2 separate regions of the Homo sapiens genome follow, and region 2 is linked to region 1. The links come from fine-mapping of genetic effects on gene expression. A gene starts in region 1. The other region holds a variant in brackets. All regions are shown on one strand. Distances are from middle to middle.

Region 1 (11,501 bases):
AAAAATTGCCAATGACATAAAACTATCCACTGTAAAGGCTGAAAGTCTTTGCTAAGTTATGATGAAATTCCCTCTTCACAAAGTAAAAGCAATACTTAATGTATAATGATAGGATCAAAGTTAATAGTTTAAAAAACAAAATAGATTGGTAAGATTTGCCAGAGTGAGAAAAACGATAGAACAATAGAAGACATGATAAAGATTGATAAAATAATGAATGGCAAAGAGAATGCCAACTGGTGCTGTTTGTTTACTTTTTCCTTTATGAAAACACAAACTTTATGTAGAGCTTTATGATAATAAGATTAAAACTTAAAAGAATACATTATTTTATGGAACACATAATTAGCCCACTGAACATGCTATCACAGGTTATCAATAAGGCACGTATGGCTCTCAAAAACTTCAGTGATATCAAAATATGACTAGCAAAATTACTTACGGTCCTAAAATGGAGCACACAATTCATGCTTCAGGGTATTAACTAGGCAAGGCCAGGAAGGAAGTTTCCTTTCCAATTGCCATAGTATTCAAGATGATTTATGAGTTCAGCTTTTAAGTATTCCTAATTCCATTTTAGAATCCAAATTATCTTATTCAAAAAAATCTTATGCCATTTTTCCAGATATACTCTTCTTTCCTATTTTTCTAAATAGCAAAGCCTTCCATTTTCACCTAATTCTCCTTCACTTCATTTATCCCAGCTTCAAAATATTGCCTAAGAAGTGATAATGAATAACCACTAAACCATATATTAAAGAATACATGTTTAGGAATAAGTTCTATAATCTGTTAAATTTTCCTATCTTCTTTAAGTAGACAAAAATTAAAATTCATACAATAAATTGGTTCTGTTCATAGTCTGTTCATACCACAAAATTAAAATTTGAGTTTGGATGCTAAGATGGATCACACTTAAGAATATTTTAACCTGTGTCCAGTAGCTACAGCAAGAAGTGTTCTTTTACATGATAAATTTCAATCAATAAGCAACATCATTTTATGGAGTAAGACAATGGAATGCCCATTAAAAAGGTATAGCCCTCTAGGCTCTGTCTTTACTATGGGGAATGAGCAATTGGTCTATGAAATGCTGTGCCCCCAGTCATTTCATAAATTCACCACATAAAGAATAGGCCATGTATGAATGACTTACAGGCAAAATTCACAGCCTGAAAGCCTAAGAAACTATGTCTGAAAAACTTGGCGGATCAGTAAAAAACATGTTAAATTTAAATTCCTGAAAATGATAAAATTATGTGTGGACAAGGCCAAAGTGATCAGGAGGCAGGTTTACACCTTGTGTCCATTTTGTAATCCAGTCCTCTCCATTTTGGGGTTAGCAATAGGGTGCCACACGTGGTGTAAGGCCAGCCATAGCATTCAAGCTTGACTGAATTTTAAGTGACACAGTAATCAAATATGCTCCAAGGGCATTCCAGAATTTCAGGTGCTGCTGACCATTAAAATCAACCTTCTTAGTGCTTACTTCAATTTAAACAGGATGTAAAATACAATCCTCGCATCAATTAAATATAAGCTCATATATTTCATCTATCAAAAATTAGTGCCCAGAATATATCACTTGAAAAAAAGGTATTATTATGTCTATCTAAGTAGTTATGCAACACCAGTTTAAAATAAGCAGATAATCTTCTAAAATATAGGATTTATGTATTTCCTCCAGAGTATAAAATAATAATTTGCTAAATTTAGAATGCCAATAAGGCAGTATCTACTCTTTCTATGAAATAGAAAGCTAAGCAGTAGAAGCCCGTGTATGGTATTTCATTTGGGAGACAAAAGAAGAAAGACATATTTCAAACAGATGGAAAGTGAAATATAATAAAGTTATACTTGCCTGCATTAATTTTCCTTCTGCTGGAGTTATTTCAGCAACACCAGCAAACACACCTTCCAAAGTGAGATTCAGTTTTCCTGTGGGGTCCATTTTCAAGGGGATCACTCTGATAATAGCTTTCTGTTCTGCTGATCTTTCAGACTCCACCGCTGCTGCCAGTACCAGTCCTGTGCGTCCAAAGCCTGCCTGCAGGGTAGCCATCAGCAGCCAGGGCCAGAGGGCAGCCAGCTGCAGCTGGTGGCCACCACTCATGCTACCAGCTGCAGCAATGCACTTCAACCATACATACTGCTTCCACTAGCTAATACCAAATGCAGGTTCTCAGATCCAGACAAATGGAGGAAAAGAACATTTATGCTTCCGTTTCAGAAAGCCAAGTCGTAGTTTTGGCCCTTCCTTTCTCTAAAGTTTATTCCCAAAAACAGGTAGCATTCCTGATTGGGCAGAGAAGAGGATATTTTCAGCCCACATCTGCTGCAGGTATGTCATTTTCTCCCATCTTCACTGTGACTAGTAAAGATCTCACCACTTCTCTTTGGAATTTCCAACTTTGCTTGTGATTGAATGTCACTTCGTGAATTTGTATTATGTCAGATCACTTGGCATTGCTCTTCCATATGCATCAAGTTGCCAGGCACTAAACCCAATGTTCATGAACAAAACAAGGCAAAGTAAACAGCTAAGGCCATGCATCAAAGGTGAGCGTGAAGAACTCCAGCTCAGAAAAGGAAGGGATGGCCCTTTTTAAGCCATAATATGTGTTAATGGTAAATGACTAAATACCACAAGGAGATTTTTTTTTTAATGGAGGAGAAGAGGGAACAATAATAAAAATTTCAGGCCACACGTTGATGTCCAAAGATGCTACAATATGTATTTAGAAAAGTTTCCACATTAAACTGTATTTCAGTGTGGCCAGGTTTCTAGGCCCACTGCATTTACATACTTTTCATGAACTTAGACATACCATAATTTTTTGTGTTTTACCAAAATTTGCCTATAAATTAGGTGCTAATTTATGTATCTTCACACATTACAGGATAATCCTGAGCATCACAACCTTTTCCAACTTTCATAATTAGAGTATTTGAAAAGGTTAGCTTTCCAATTATTTTTCCCAGTTAAAATTCATATTTCCATCTCCATTTTCTTTTCTCTCTTAAGGATTCTTGATTTTATTCTCCAGCTCGGAAATGCCGAGCACTTTGATTTCCCATGAGATGCTTTTGGAAACTACTTTAATATCCAGATTTTATGATCTGTAATTTTCTAGGTTCATAAGAAAAACAAAGGACTATTCCTCACATGTATCCAAATTCCCTGAGGGGGTAGGGAATAAAAGGTAGGGGGAGCAGGGAGGCGATTAACCACAGGCTCTAGGTAGAATACCCTGAAAAAATACAAATAATCTTGAGTAGAATAGATCTGTGCTATTTCTAGGCACTATGAAAATTTGCGTCTTTGTACAAACACAGAATAAGATTTTTAAAATGTGCACCCTTAAGTAAATATAAATACACCTCACCCACAAAGCCCTCTGTGTTCCAAGGTCAAGTTTAAAAATATTATAAAGTCTTCAGAATAAGTGCTGAAAAGCCAAGCAATTGAACATGAACCTGTTATATGGATTCTTTTCTTTTGCTGAGGCAGAGGGAGGGGGGAAAAAGGAATTTCAAAAGAAATCTGCAAACCTGTTGCGCTGTCGGGCCCACTGGAATCCACGGGGGTGAAACAAATTCAATTATGCTTTTACAGATCCTGCTCAAAAAAGGTTTCAACTGCTTAACCAAGTACAGCTCATTCTTCCACCTTCTTACTCTGCAACCAAACCAAGTGCCCCATACTACAGGTAGGTGCCGAGAAATTCCGCAGCCTGAAAAAATAATCCATGCAGGTCAAAGGCAGAAATTTACTCCGGGATGAGAGATGCTGTCCCCTAGAACTAAATTAAACACTTACAGAAAATCCAAAATCATTTCTGAAACCTCCTTGCTAACAAAAGTTCTTTTTTTCTCCAAACAGCATATAAAATGATCAAGTCTTGAAAGAGAAAAGAAGCAAAGTAGCAAATACATCAACAATTCACTATCAGAAACACATAAAATCCCAGAGAGAGAGAAGGCAGTATCTCTGAATCATGGATGGACTTGGAAAGTTCGGAAGGATTCCGAGTGCTTCCTTTCAGAAAGACAATTCTGGATCAACTCCCTAGAGCAGGAAGCCTGTGGTTTGTAATTGGTGTTCTAGCTCTGACTCCCTCCCCTGGGACTGCAATCACGCTCTCTACCTGCTGACAAAGTGAGGGTGGAGCTGCTAGAGGCAACCACTCCCCACCCTGCCCCCCTCCTCCTGGTGCTCACACACAACACTTACTTAACCAGACCCGTTCTTTCGCTCTCCCCCCTCCCTCAGCTCCTCTACTCCCTCTACTGAGCCACAGCTAAACTGCATCCAATTCGATCCCGAGTACCTTTCTCTGGGTAAGCAAGCTACCACATGCAAATCAGGGCCACTCAAAGATATCTAAGCAGACTCTGCACCCAACAGAGCATAGATGATGGTATGAGGAAATAAACAGAAAAAAATAAAGGTAATCCGGAAGATAAAAGAATGGACACAAGGTTTTGCAAATATAAGTTCAAAAGGATTTCTGCTCATTCCAAGTTTGAGTGTCTATAAATGGCAGAAAGCCAGAATAAAGTGATCCTGTGTTTTAGTACTTACTGATTTATTGCTGCTTATGTCTGCTACCCTGGGAAGGGCTCTGTCCATTTTATGCTTAGCTTTTCTTCAGCTCTTACTAATTTAAATTCAGTAGCTCTGTCTAAACTGTGCCTATATGGAACTTTCAAATCAGGTTGATGTCAGATGTCTGGAATCCAACTGTTATTTTCTTTTCAATCTTTGGGAGGTGAAATAATACTATGGATCAGACCTATGCCTTCAATGTAAGACTCCAAATAAGTCCATGTCATAAATACAAGCCAAAGGGTAAAATATGATTAATGAGAAGAACATAGGCAAAAAGAAAATGAATTTCTGGCTAATTACCACATTCATGAACTATAATCCTTATTACTACCCTGCCATTAGAAATAATACAACAGTTTCTAATACATTTATAACATTTGAAGTTTCAAATTACCAGATTATATTTGACTGTGGTGAGACATTTTATTTCTGAACCGCTGCCATAAACTTTCAAAATTATACAAATGAACAACAATGTGGATATAGTTAAATCTAGTGAACTGTACACTTAAAAATGGTTATGATAGTAAATTTTATGTGTTTCTTACCTCATGTAAAAACGAATCTCTGATCATCTGTAAAATGCTGATGATAATAATTACGATAGGTCTGTTGTAAAGATTAAATGACATAATGCCTCTGAAAGCAAAAAGGATGAGTAGCCTATTGACCTTCAACATTGTTTCCCCTGTAGATAAGGTTTATGACAGTAGTTTCAGAATTTCAGATCTAATAACTAACCTAGATCAAAGACAAATTCGAAAATAAATTTTTTGTTTATTTTTGTTGTTTGAGACAGGGTCTTGTGTTACCCACGCTGGAGCACAGTTGTGCCATCATGGCTCACTGCAGCCTTGACCTTCATGGCCTCCCACCTCAGCCTCCAGAGTAGCTGGGATCACAGGTGCGTCCCACCACACCCTGCAAATTTTTTTTTTTTTTTTTTTGAGACGGAGTCCCGCTCTGTTGCCCAGGCTGGAGTGCAGTGGCGCTATCTCGGCTCACTGCAAGCTCCGCCTCCCGGTTCATGCCATTCTCCTGCCTCAGCCTCCCGAGTAGCTGGGATTACAGGCGCCCGCCACCACGCCCAGCTAATTTTTTGTATTTTTAGTAGAGACGGGGTTTCACCGTGTTAGCCAGGATGGTCTCCATCTCCTGACCTTGTGATCCACCCGCCTCGGTCTCCCAAAGTGCTGGGATTACAGGCGTGAGCCACTGCGCCTGGCCAACACCCTGCAAATTTAAAAAAAATTTTTGTTGGGCCAGGCGTGGTGACTCACGCCTATAATCCCAGCACTTTGGTTGACCAAGGTGGGTGGATCACGAGGTCGGGAATTTGAGACCAGCCTGACCAACATAGTTTAATTTAACATAGTTAAACTAAAAAATAACCTACAAATGGGCTTTGCCTCATCTATTCCTGCTTAAAACGTGCAAAGGAATGAAAAGACCTAGCCCTAGTAATTAATACACACACTTAATTGACAGAAAGAAGACAGTTACAAATGTGGTTGCCCTCTCTTGAGGAAACTCTGAGATTTGGAAATGATGATGATATGCATCATGAACCTGGAGACTTGGAGAAACTCAAGATCAAACCAAACAGCTCTATGTAGCTTAGTTCACTGTTTTAGATCACCAGAATTGCAAGAGCAATTATTCTTCAGCTTCAAAGTTTTGGAGTTACCCTCTAGGGTTGATATACTACTACATTTTCCTAGAGATGTCATAAAGATGCCATCACTATTGTAATGAAATGCCTAAGTCTCAATGACATCTACTAGCTAGTCTTATACATGAGATAGATCATCCTTCAGGATCTACTTTCACCTCTGGATTGATTAAATTTATCAAAGATCATTCATCCTTTTCCAAAAATGTAGGTTTCTGTAAAACATGTCTAAGAATTGTCCTTATCCCTAACGGCATTTAAAAAATTCCATTGCTATTCAAGTACAAATGAAAAAAAACTTTTAAAATTCAGATTATTTGAAAAATAAAGTAAATCTCATTTGAATTATACTATTAACTGTCATAATTATTGAATTTTCTATTAATCACCAAACAGTAAGAACAAGCAAGACAACAAGTCTAGTTGGAACACTCACTTTATTGTTGACTGATTGAAATTTATCAGTGCTTAAGGTGCTGAAATACTGAGGTACTAGTCAGGAACCTTGTTAGTTGACTAGTTGTGTCAGACCCTACTGGCTAATTCACAGGAAGACTTTATTATACCTCTTGCCATTTTGCCCAAGTCATTAATGACAGCTTTAGTTGATAGATACAAGGCGTGTAAGGATAGCAGGAGATCCAGCTCCTTGGTCTGCTGTATTCATATATAAAAATGTTTGGAAAGCTGATTAAGGCATTTCATTAATTAAGCCTTAAAACAACTGAAACCAAATCTATGCCAAGGTTCCTGCTTGACATGTGTTCCTCAAAAGATATTATCTCAACATCTATAAAGCTAAGAAAGCCATATTTAGGGGAAAATCTACACAGTATATTAGCTCTTCAACATGACAGAGAAAAAGCAAAGTTCCTTCATTTGGAAATTGGGTCTCCTCTTCACATACTCTGACAAAATATTATATAGTCTGGCCAAAAGATATAGGTGTCTTGATAATTTGCTCTTTTAAACCTTGCTAATAAAGATAAATAAATGCCCATCACATAGACATTAACTAGTCTAATCAGAGGGACCACACAGGTCGCTTTTCAGAACCTACTTTAATATCTAAACAGAGTCACTGCAGATCAATACAGAGCTCACCCTTTTCCAGAAAAGTAGATCTCTGTAATATTTCTAGGGTTTGACATCATTGGGAAGGCACAATGCAGTATAAGAAATGAACTGTTACATCCACAACGGCTAGCATAGTACTATGTCATATCACCAAGTGCCTTTTTAATTAGTTTCATATTCCTAGGCTTTCCTTTCGTTTCTGCAGTGCTTAATAGGAGAACTGAAACAGAATCCAATAAGAAAGTTTTGGTCAATTGAAAGACTTTAAATCAGAAAGTTTCTTGCTGTCACTGGATAAGCAAGTAAGGGATTAACCACAGAAACTGGACATCCAAGACATCCTTCTCTCCTAAAACACAGTCCCACAATCCTACTGCACAAATCTAGAATCCTGTAACAGGGATAAGAAAAAAATGTTACCATCTATCCCATTATCCAAAATTCTCTCAGAAGCTTAAACCAGATTGAAACCATTCTTTAAAAATCAGAGGCATAGCTTCTACTAAATGGCTGCTAATCAGTTTTTTCCCAAATTTGCACACAATACCTTATATAGATGAGAATTTATACTTATTGAATGTAAAAATCTAAAATAAGAAAATAGTATATTAAATCTCTTAATGTTTTTGTTCACACATTGTACATTTTCCTTTCAAAATAAAAATACTACACATGCATCCTTTATCCTTCTATCCTGCAATAATAAAAATATAAAACTTTAAAACCTTTAAATCTATCAGCATTTATAAATACAATTATATTAAACAAGTTAAATACTTTCTTTAAAGACATTTAAATAAGTGATATATTAATAAAATCTTTTTACCATTTATGATAATGTATCATTAAAATTAAAGAAAGATATGAAAATAGAAGAATGCTTCCATTAATATAAAAGAATCAGGGGCTGTTAAGTGTGATAGATGGTCCAAGTCCGGATGCCTTGCTCTTAAAACAGAATGCTGGGTTAGGAAGTAAGAGAATTTCCTGGTTAATCACTTAGAAAATTAGCTCTTCTCCAGAGTTTCTTCCCTGGAATTCCTGATGCATTTAGACCTGTGATGCTGGTGACCTCACATGCCTTTGTTTCTCACACAATCTCCTCTAAAAGGATCACACTGTGACTTGAATCAGAGAGACTGAATTCCCCACTAAAGTTGTGCTGACTACAGTTTGAGTGGCAAGACAACAAATCAGCACACACACAGATTATTCTTAGTACCATAGATGGAGCAGTTTTTAGATGCTCCTTGACTATAACAGAAGGTCAGAACTTTTCATTTAAAAGGGATCTGGGCAGCCAAAAAACGTGGCTGCTAGATGTTCAGTAGTTTGTCAAGGCAGATAATCTGAACTGAACCACTGTAGTACATACAAATTCCCAATTCTCAATTAACAAAATTCTCAATTAACGAAACAAAAAATACTTTTTTTTCCTTAACAGAACTGAAAAAATCCCAACAGTTTGTCATGTGCAAGGCTAGTCTGCCTCCAGCTACAGCTAGTGCACAATGTCACATTTGTCATCCATTCCTCACTCTTTTAATTCTTCCTCCTTTGGAAAGCGCTCCTGCTTGCAGGCCACGTCCACCAGCAGATGAAGATCTAGAAAGAAAGGATAGTTTACTCCCTCTTAGCCTCTCTGTAGAGTTCTATAGACAAGTTTTCAGACAAGCAGAACAAGTTGTCTATGTCTCACCTGTAGAACTGGCTCTAAAATTGTATAGTCCCATCAGATTCTCAATTTCGGGATATTCCTGTAACTCTAAAGCACACTGATGCAGCCCAGTTGTAACCCAAAGAGACCAACAAATTTTAGTGTCCCTCCTTTTCAGTAGTATAGCCAAGACTCTTTTCACCTCAGTTGCCTTTTTTTTTTTTTTTTTTGAGACGGAGTTTTGCTCTTATCGTCCAGGCTGGAGTACGGCGGCACAATCTCGGCTCGCTGCAACCTCTGCCTCCTGGGTTCAACTGATTATCCTGCCTCAGCCTCCCAAGTAGCTAGGATTACAGGCATGCACCACCACGCACGGCTAATTTTTATATTTTTAGTGGAGACGGGGTTTCAGCATGTTGGCCAGGCTGGTCTCGAACTCCTAACCTCAAGTGATCCACACACCTTGGCCTCCCAAAGTGCTGGGATGACAGGCGTGAGCCACGGTGCCTGGCCTTCAATTGCCTTTTATTGTAAGTGAAAAAGTAAGGAAAAGTGTCAAAGGGATCAAAGTGAATATACACATACAAATAAAAATTCATTTCCTTCATGCTGTAAGAGTAGGTGGGTGGGTTGTGGGAACATGAAAAGGCAATGCCTTCAGAAAAAACAATGTTAAAATAAGTAATCACCATTTTTCCAAAGTTGATTGACTCTATAAAATTCCCACTTATTGACTAACACAGCTGAATTCTTGTAAAAACACCTAGCTGAACTGTCCATAAAAAAGAAAGCATGTCCTCACACAGTGGTTCATTAAGAATGAAAGAAGTAAAAATGCAAATTAGGTACTAGGTTCTGTAATACAAAAAAGCTAAGACCATGTGTAGAAGTTGAGCTAAAACGTCTATAGAGGAACACAGGCAGCAATAAAAGGATCTTAAAGTGGCTTCTAGCTTCAAGCTAATGTGCTTACAACTTCTAGAGCAACATGACCAGGGAGCTTTTTTTTTTTTTTTTTTTTTTGAGACAGAGTCTCACACTGTCACCCGCGCTGGAGTGCAATCTCAGCTCATAGCAAACTCCGCCTCCCGGGTTCATGCGATTCTCCTGCCTCAGCCTCCCAAGTAGCTGGGATTACAGGCGCACACCACCATACCTGGCTAATTTTTTATATATTTAGTAGAGATGGGGTTTCACTATGTTGGCCAGACTGGTCTCAAACTCCTGACCTCGTGATCTGCCCGCCTCAGCCTCCCAAAGTGCTAGGATTACAGGCGTGAGCCACTGCGCCCGGCCCAGGGAGCATTTTTAGGTTGGTTTTGAAGTTTACAACTTTGCTTTAGCATTTGTGAGTTAAAGTATACAGCACAAACCCTTTATTTCATTCTCAACATACAAAGACTTTTGTTGCTACATTTTTGGAACACAGCCTCTACAGGATTGATCCACAGCCCGAGCAGGATAGCTGATTCAAATAAAATGGAATTCTACTACCACTTGGTAGAAAATCTAGAAAGCATTTGAAATAGTACCTAATTTTTGTCATATTTTGTAAAAGACAGACTAGTCACCAGGGATAGGTGCTTACTCATCTGGTGAACTACAACCTAGCCATATAGAACAAGTAATTTATCCACATAAGTATTTTGTGGAAGGAGAGTTTATCAGTTTATCACTTAAAATGAGTTTCTCATACTCCCATGATCACAGCAGTATAATCAGCAGTATTATTCACAATAGGCAAAAGGGAGAAGAAATCCTAGTATCCATCAACAGATGAATGGATAAACAAAATGTGGTATACACATATAACGGAATGTTATTTAGCCTTAAAAAGGAATAAAGCGGGACCAGGAGTGGTGACTCATGCCTGTAATCCTAGCAGTTTGGGAGGCCGAGGCAGGCAGATCACAAGGTCAGGAGATCAAGACCATCCTGGCTAATATGGTGAAACCCCATCTCTACTAAAAATACAAAAAATTAGTTGGGCATGGTGGCAGGCGCCTGTAGTCCCAGCCACCAGGGAGGCTGAGGCAGGAGAATTGTTTGAACCCGGGAGATGGAGGTTGCAGTGAGCCAAGATGGAGCCACTGCACTCCGGCCTGGGCGACAGAGTGAGACTCCGTCTCAAAAAAAAAAAAAAAAAGGAGGAAGAAAGCCAGGAGTGGTGGCACATGCCTGTAGCCCCAGCTACTCAGAAGGCTGAGGCGGAAGGATTGCTTGAGCCCAGGAATTCAAGGCTGCAGTGAGCTATGATGGCACCACTGCACTCCAGTGTGGGTGACAGAGCAAAACCCTGTCTCAAAACAAACAAACAAACAAACAAAATGGAGGAAATTCTGGCACATGCTACAACAATAGGCATTAGGATAAATGAAATAAACTAATCACAAAAAGACAAAAGACAAATACTATATGATCCCATTTATATGAGGTAGCTGGAATAGTCAAATTCAGAGACAAAAAATAGAATGGTAGGTGCC
Region 2 (8,000 bases), 45 kb before region 1:
AAACCATGGCCTGCAGCAATGTGCTTTGCAGGTTTCTTCTAAAGAAGCTGAAAATCTGAGTTTTTTTTTTTTTTTTTTTTTTTTTTGAGACAAAGTCCCGCTCTGTCACCCAGGCTGGAGTGCAGTGGCACGATCTCGGCTCACTGCAAGCTCCACCTCCTGGGTTCACACCATTCTCCTGCCTCAGCCTCCTGAGTAGCTGGGATTACAGGCATGTGCCACCACGCCTGGCTAATTTTTTGTATTTTTAGTAGAGACGGGGTTTCACTGTGTTAGCCAGGATGGTCTCGATCTCCTGACCTCGTGATCCACCCACCTCGGCCTCCCAAAGTGCTGGGATTATAGGCGTGCGCCACCACGCCTAGTGAAAATCTCAGCTTTTATATAAACATTTTTAATTTTTAAATGTGGCAATTAATATACACATTGAAAAGTCGCTGTGAGGGTTAAACACAACATGTCTGCAAGCCAAACCCAGCTTATGGGCCACCAGTTTGCAACCTCAGGGGAAAAGTGTGAACTTTTTAAGGGTGGGGCAATGGTTTCTATTTCTGCTGTTCTTGCACAGTGCTCAGTGTATGTTTCTAAAAGATGGAAATCCCTTCAATTGACCCCTTCTTTGCTCTGGTGCAGAGCAGGGGAAGGGACTCAGGAACTCCCAAGTGATGGGAAGGAGGTGGGATGGGGAGCATGCTGGGATGAAGGTCAAAAAGTCCTGCTGGTGCTAGTCGGAGGAGAAAAAACAGAGGTGTGAATTTCCACTTCTCTCAGACCAGTCATGGGTTAGGGAAACCCAAGGGAATCAGGTACATCACTCTTAGGAAACATGGGGACAAGAGAGCACAGGGTCTTCTCACAGCCCAGAGCTGGGTGAAGCTCCGGGTGTGTGTAGGGCGAAGTGTGAGTCTACCTTGCTAGCCAGTGACAGGCAGGGGCGGGGGGCCCGTCGAGGACTCTCCAGCTTGACGATGCTGATGAATCCAGGCTCCAGATTGTCGTCATCACTGGCATTGCACAGGTACAGCGGGTGGGACTGCAGAGAGAGACAGACTTGGGTTAGGGAGGCTTTAGGCAGCAGGAGTGAGCTGTGAGAGCCATATACCTCTCCATTTTTCTAGGGAGGTACCAGGCAGGTCTCTTGGTGCTGTAAAAGAGTAGGCCTTATGATTGGATTGCCTCTTAGTAAGCTAGTGACCACTGTTTGTCACTTCAGGATGCTGGGGCCAAGGACACAGGTAGTGGAGGCAGATAGGAGGGAGAGGGTGTCCCAGAGGGGACCTAAATGAAGAGCTTGCTGCAAAGCAACTCTAACAACCTTCAACTCCAACAATCCTACTTCTCTAAACTGGCCAGACGCAGAGGGCTCCTCTCCTGGCCCCAGCCTCTCTACCTCCTGATCCTTCTACCTGCTCCCCAAGCCCCAGGCTAAGAGAATATCCATGTGTGCCTGCATCAGTGCTTTCAGAATGCCCATGGGCAGTGCTGGATGCTGCTGGTGCCTCCTGCCTCCTCGGGATGCCCCCAGGCAACTGTTGCCCTGTAGATTCCCATTTCTCAGGAGGCTGGGTCATCTCACTCGGTGCTACCTTGCTTCTCTCACTAGCCCCTTTTTTGCCTCTGCCCTGTACCCATCCTGGGATCAAGCATGGTGTTGACAGAGAGGTGAGACTATCTTGCAATGAGGCTTGGCTAAGACATAAGCTTTGACAGCTCACCCTGGTCCCAGGAATGATGCCGTGGAGGTGGAGCCAGCCCAGCCCATCTGCTCTAAGGGCAGATCCTGTCCAAGACCCTGTGCCTCTGAGCCCAGCTGGTGCTGAACAATGACTAAAGGAGAACGTGCTGACAGAAATCTGAGGCTCTCCTCATCAAAGGGGTGAGACCACCTTACTCTCTCTTCTCATTCACAGCGATTTGTACACCCATTTGAATCTAATTTTCCCTAAACAAAATGTCAGAGTGCAATGAGAACAAAGTATGACTTATTTGGCCCTGAATAATCCTATGGTCCAGGGACTCCTATATAGTAGAAACCCCACATATCCTGGCAAGAAAGAGATTTCTTATTAGAGAGCTGCCCACACTTCCCCCTCTACTACTGTTGATGTCTGAAGGACTTCCAGAAAGAACCATCAGAGGAACCACAGAGAATCTTGAATTTATAAAGATGTTTATGAAGATAATGTCAATGATGGATTTAAAAGCACACTTTCTGAAAGCTCTTTCAGGCTATTTCCTCTCACTGTGTCACCGCGGTCCCTTGAACATAGTAGGTTCTCAATAACTATCTACTACCTTGCTTTGAATCAAAATCTCTGGGCAGGGGGTGTTGAGATAGGAAGGAGTTCCATTCTTGCTCCCAGAGTTTAAGGCCTACTAGTCTGGTAGTGAGCAAGGTTTAGTGTGGGAGAAAGGTTATCATGTGCCCCTGCCCCAAGAAAAAGGCTGGGGCATGAGGGTGGAGTTGTTCTTACATCAGTGAAGCTGTAGCCCCTGTCTCAACAAGCTGCATTAGTCTCTCTATCTGTCCATGCATCCATTCATTTCTTTGTTCTGCCAGCACGGAAGGCCCCCTTGGTGTCAGGCTCTGTCCAATGCAGTGAGGAGCTAATGATGAGTAAGAGAGGCTCCTTGCCTTAAAGCAGCTCAAAAGACAAGCATGCAAACACATCGTGATGTTACAATGCAAGGGGCCTATGGGAGGGCACAAAGAGGGGCAGCTAACAATACATATGGGAAGCAGAGCAGTTTTCACAAGAGGTGACTGGAGAGCTACCTGGAAGGCTAACTAGGTATGTGTTCACCTCAGGGACCAATGAAAGGGAGCGGGGTTGGGGAGCCACATTCCTGGCAGAGGAAGCCACTGCACCAAGGAACAGAGGCCTAGCACGAGGCTGAGGTAGACTGTGGGCAGTGAGGTCTGGCACGAAAGGGAAGGCAGGACATAAGGCTGGAAGGATCTGCAAGAGTCAGGCCACAGAGCTGAGACCACAGATTTGCACTGGAGACCAATTTCTCTGAAGACTGTGGAGGAGACTCTGGTGTGGTGGGGAATCTGAAGGCAGCTGCTCCACCAGAGCAGAAGATGGAGGCCTTCCCTGAGGAAGGACAAATCGCAGCCACAGAAGGTTCTGCTCTGCTTGCTCCTCGACCCTCCCCACA[T/C]GGTCCAGCCTTCTCCTGATGACTCCAAGATGCCGCTCACTGACCAGAGGGTCGCCTGGGAGAGGAAAGTCACTTTGGAGAAGTTCCTACAGTGTGTCTGCAGATATTTAAACAGCACTCTTCCCCAGGTTTGAACAGGGAACCAGCATCTACAGCTCAGTGCTGCATTGTAGGATACCTCTGACAAGGTGGAAGGGAAAAAAAACCTGGTATGAGCCACCAAACTTGCCTGGTTCCGAATTAACAACTATGGAAGAAGGAATGGAAGGAAATTAAACATCAATAAAGGCCTCTTGTGTGCCAGAGCTTTTAGACATTATTTCACCATAAGGTAGGTGTTATAGCCATTTTTAAAAACAATTATTTAATTTTTATGTGCACATAGTAGGTGTATATATTTATGGGATACATGATATGTTTTGATATAGGCATGCAATGTGTAATAATCACATCATGGAGAATGGAATATCCATCTCCTCAAGCATTAATCCCTTGTATTACAAACAATTCAATTATACTCTTTTAGTTATTTTTAAATGTACAATAAAATTATTGTTGACTATAGTCACCCCATTGTACTATCAAATACTAGGCCTTATTCATTCATTTTAACTTTTTTTTTAAAACCCATTAACCATCTCCATCTCCCCACTACCCCTATCATAGCCACTTAAAGAAGAGAAGCTTGAGGCTGAGAGAAATCAAGGTCACACAAGATTTGAACTCAACTCTGCCTGACTCCATTGTCGGAGCCATGGAGCTCCAAATGAACCCTCCATCCAGCAACCCTCCATCCATCTCCATGCTAATGATAGTCAGGATGGGGACAGTACAGTTTATATTTATTGGGTAAATACTGTGGGCCAGTGATTGTTCTATGCACTTTTTCATATTAACTCTTTTCATCCTCATAACAACACTATCAGGTAGAGATTGTTATTGTTCCCATTTTAAAGATGAGGAAACTGAGGCACTAAAAGGTTAAATAACATGCCCAAGATTACACAGCTAGTAAGTGGTAGAGATTAGAAAAAAAAAGGAAAGTAGTAGTAGGATAAGGTTAAAAAAATATTTAAGAACAATTTACATTTTATTTTGAAAACATGATACCTTCCCCGAACTCATTTACTAAGAAAATTTATCTTACTAAAGCATAAGGACCCAAATACAAGTCCCTAAAATGTTGATGGTGACCCCCGGGATTCTTAGACCCTCCTCTCTTTTCACTCTTCTTTTTTTTTTTTTTTTGAGACAGAGTCTCGCTGTGTCACCCAGGCTGGAGTGCAGTGGTGCAATCTTGGCTTGCTGCAACCTCCACCTCCTGGGTTCAAGCAATTCTCCTGCCTCAGCCTCCCAAGTAGCTGGGACTACAGGCGCCCGCCACCATGTCTGGCTAATTTTTGTATTTTTAGTAGAGATGGGGTTTCACTATGTTGGCCAGGTTGGTCTTGAACTCCTGACCTCATGATCTGCCTGCCTCGGCCTCCTACAGTGCTGGGATTACAGGCATGAGCCACCGTGTCTGGCCCCCTCTTTTCACTCTTGATGACTTCTCTGGGTGACAGCAGCCAATCCCATGGCTACGGTGCCCACACAGAGGTCAGTGATTACATATGTACAGTTTGGTCTTCTCTTGAGCTCCAGACCCTTATGTCTAACCCTGGACGTTTCTACCTTAATAATCTTAAGTAGAACACCTCAAACTCAGCATGCTCAAGACTGAACTCATTCTATCCCCAAAACTGCTCCTCCAGTGTTTGCTGTCTCTGGGATTGGAACCATCATCCATCTATTACCCAAGCAAGATGCTGTCCTCCTAGCCTCCATCTCCTTCACCCCCACTCTAACCACCAATATCCAATCAATCGCCAAATTCTAACAATTCTACCTCCTAAATATTTGTCTTATTTTATTCTTTCTTCCATTCTCACTATCGCTATTGTAATACAGGCCACCATCACTGCCAACCCTATTTACCGAAATAACCTACTCCCTAGGGTCACTTCATCCCATTCGTTCTCTATATTGCAGCCAAAGTGGTCTAAAATGCTAACTTGAGCACGTTACTCTTCTACTTGCAGCTCTTACAAGGCTCCTCATAGCTCCTGAAATAAAGTCTGTACTCTTAAACATAGCTGAAAAGGCTCTGCCTGGTCTGGGCCCTGCCTCATGGCTTAACATTCCCATCCTATATCTCTTCCCACCTTGCGACCTATGTTCCAGAAATAATAACTTGTTTCATTTCCCTGAACACCTTTGGCACTTGCTGCTCTGTCCGGCATTTCCCTAATCATACATTACCCCACGGTATTGTAATTGTCGGCTTACTTCCCTCTCTTCTCCAGATGATGACTGAGTCTAGCCTGCCCCCCACTGCCTGTTACTTTGTGGGCACTCAATCAATATTTGTTGATTAAATATTGGAAGTCTATAACCAGATAATTGACGATAGTTAACTATGAAGACAAGACAGAGCACACCCAAATCCTATAATGGTTGCTCTGGGAGAGGAATTAGAGAGGGGGTAGTAGAGAGGGACTTTGGTGTTTTGCTTTGAATACTTTGATCAGAAGATAATACATGAGATTTGAGTTTTGTTTTTTGCTGTTGTAGAAGAATAAAAAAGAACGACAGTTATTTATATTTTGTTCCATGTCTTTTCCCTCCTTCCCTTCCAAGAAGATGGCTTCACCTTCTATTTCCTTGCCTTAGGGGCATTTGCCAAAAGCAAATGTTGTTTAAAGTTCTCCCTTCCTGGCTTTTGCAGAAAAACTGAACTCACTGAGGAAGTGTGAGTGTCCTGAAGGCAGAAGGGCCTGTGGTGAAGGGAGGGGTCAAAGTCTCAGAACCAGGAGGGCAGGAAGGAGGTGTCTGGAGCCAGTGTGAGGGGCCTGGAGCCATGCTGAGTAGTGGGAAGCTGCAGCCTGTGCCCCAGAAGCGGTGGGTCCCTGGAGAAGGACTGAGTACTAGACCCCAGGAGGCTGGCCCCTGGGAGAGATGATGTGCCTGCGTGGATTTCAAGGGAATGCCTGTGTTTGGACAAGAAACATATCTGTGGTGGCCAGCATGGATGAATATCAGAGGGGTCCCTTGGATATCTTGGTTTTCATAAAACTCTGGGACTTTTGTGCTACTCTATGAGGAGAAGTGCCCTTGAAAACAAATGTCTATGCAGCTAATGGGATAGGACCTTGGTGTTAGATTTGATAAAAAAAATAAATAAATAAAGTAACATGATCTTTCTAGTACAATTATATCTGTGGTATGACAATCATACTCATTATACTTTTGTATGGCTTGACTCTTTTACAATGAGAGCTTTTCAAATATTCTCAAATTAAAAACAAATAATAGCCATTTGAACTAGGACTCAGTTCAGCACCTAGCAAGAAAGACAGCATTGGCATTCCCTGGGTATAACACAGGGGCTGTCTTTGCCCTTCCTCCAAGGAATTTTCAGCCAGGAAGCGGGCTCTTGAGAAAACAGATGCAAATACATCTGTCTCCTTGGAATGCAAGGTCTCCTAATCATGAAGATGCAAACACGATTTCTACAGTGGGCCACCTGTCCCCTCAGTGACACCAGGGGAGGGTCAAGAGAAATGAGCTTGCCTGATTTGAGAAGGGTGTGGCTGTGGAGGGCTCATGGAAACTTGGTGAATTTGACTTCCTCAAAGGCCAGGAGTTAGGACACCACTGTCTCACAGGCTGCCATGAGGGGCAAATTAAGAGGCACTTGCTTTCAAGCACGAGTTGGGTCATTCTGACTCAGAATTCAGCTTTGCATACATATTTTATACCCCCTGTGTAAAGACATGTGAACTGTCCTTCGGTGGTGTGTGTTGTATTTCATATTCCTGAGTCTATTCTCCCTGTGTCCTCCTTAACTTATTTGTTCTGATTTTTTCCCCTCCCTCCCAAGACAGACCTAGAGTTCAGATTCTGACCCCATCATTTACCTGTGTGACCTTGGGCATGTTAATCTTTCTGAGCCTCATATTGCTCGTCTTTGGAATGGGAACAAGAATGCTTTGTGTAGACAGGAGATAATGGATATCAGTGCCTAGCAAAAAGCCTGACACTTAGTAAGTGCTCACTTAATGGCAGCTGTTTTTATTACTGCATCTATAATAAAGTCCCTTCTTATTCCTGGAAGGGACAAGGCCTTTTCTGAACCCCTCCCCCGTTCTTTGGTAATCAACAGTGCTTCTGAATGCCAGTGTTCTGCAAGGCGCATTCTGGGACAGCTCATTATCCACAGTCACTTCCCTCCTGTTCTCAGCCCTCCAAACCCCACTGAACAAGCTCTTCCAGTTCTCAGCCTGCCTCCTTCCCATGAAGGAAGCCATGTGATCTCATTACCTCCTCACAAAGGGCATTTCAGGGCTCAACTGGGCCTGGAACTTAATGCTGGTCTCCCCTTATCCATGGCATCTCCTCCTCTTTGGGTGTGTGCTTCTGCAAGCAATTCTTCACTGTCTCCTGTTTCCCAGGAACTCTCCTCCCCACCCACCCACCCACCCCCTCCTGCCCCCACCACCGACCTCTGCTGCAATTGTCTCTTAGTTCTCTGATTCCACGTACAGACCTTCAACCAGGCCTTGGACAGGTAACTTTACTGCTTGCTACAATTTTGCCTTTGTAATCAAGAACATTGGCCAGGCATCAAAGGCATCATTCTCCCCATTTCCTCTTTTCAGATTTTACAATCATCCTTTCCTGCACAACCTCCATTACCTGAACTTTTATCTTAGGTAGGAGGACACACCGGCATCATAAAGTAAAGCTCCTGCAGATATGGGGGTGGGAAAAAAACAGGTTGGCCTGAAGTTGCTTCT

Alleles and levels. Positions count from the first base shown, and alleles are read on the strand shown. Sizes are in standard deviations (SD) of each study's normalised expression.
For the expression in testis of the gene that starts at base 4,070 in region 1, C is the high allele of the variant in region 2 and T is the other (small effect, 0.25 SD a copy in GTEx).

The links.
Region 2: its variant is fine-mapped to the expression of RNF43 in testis (GTEx, PIP 0.97).

Annotation. Positions count from the first base shown.
Region 1 is chr17:58,413,465-58,424,965 of GRCh38, forward strand. RNF43 (ring finger protein 43) reads right to left here and starts at 4,070. Exons shown (of 10, transcript NM_017763.6): 1 at 3,553-4,070; 2 at 1,862-2,498. The coding sequence starts at 2,113. It overlaps HSF5 (heat shock transcription factor 5), which reads right to left. Exons shown (of 6, transcript NM_001080439.3): 6 at 6,703-8,966. The coding sequence ends at 8,896.
Region 2 is chr17:58,370,001-58,378,000 of GRCh38, forward strand. It overlaps RNF43 (ring finger protein 43), which reads right to left. Exons shown (of 10, transcript NM_017763.6): 3 at 911-1,033. Among named protein-coding and RNA genes, the nearest start is that of SUPT4H1, 22 kb to the left of the region's middle. The variant T/C (reference allele first, on the strand shown) is at 3,163.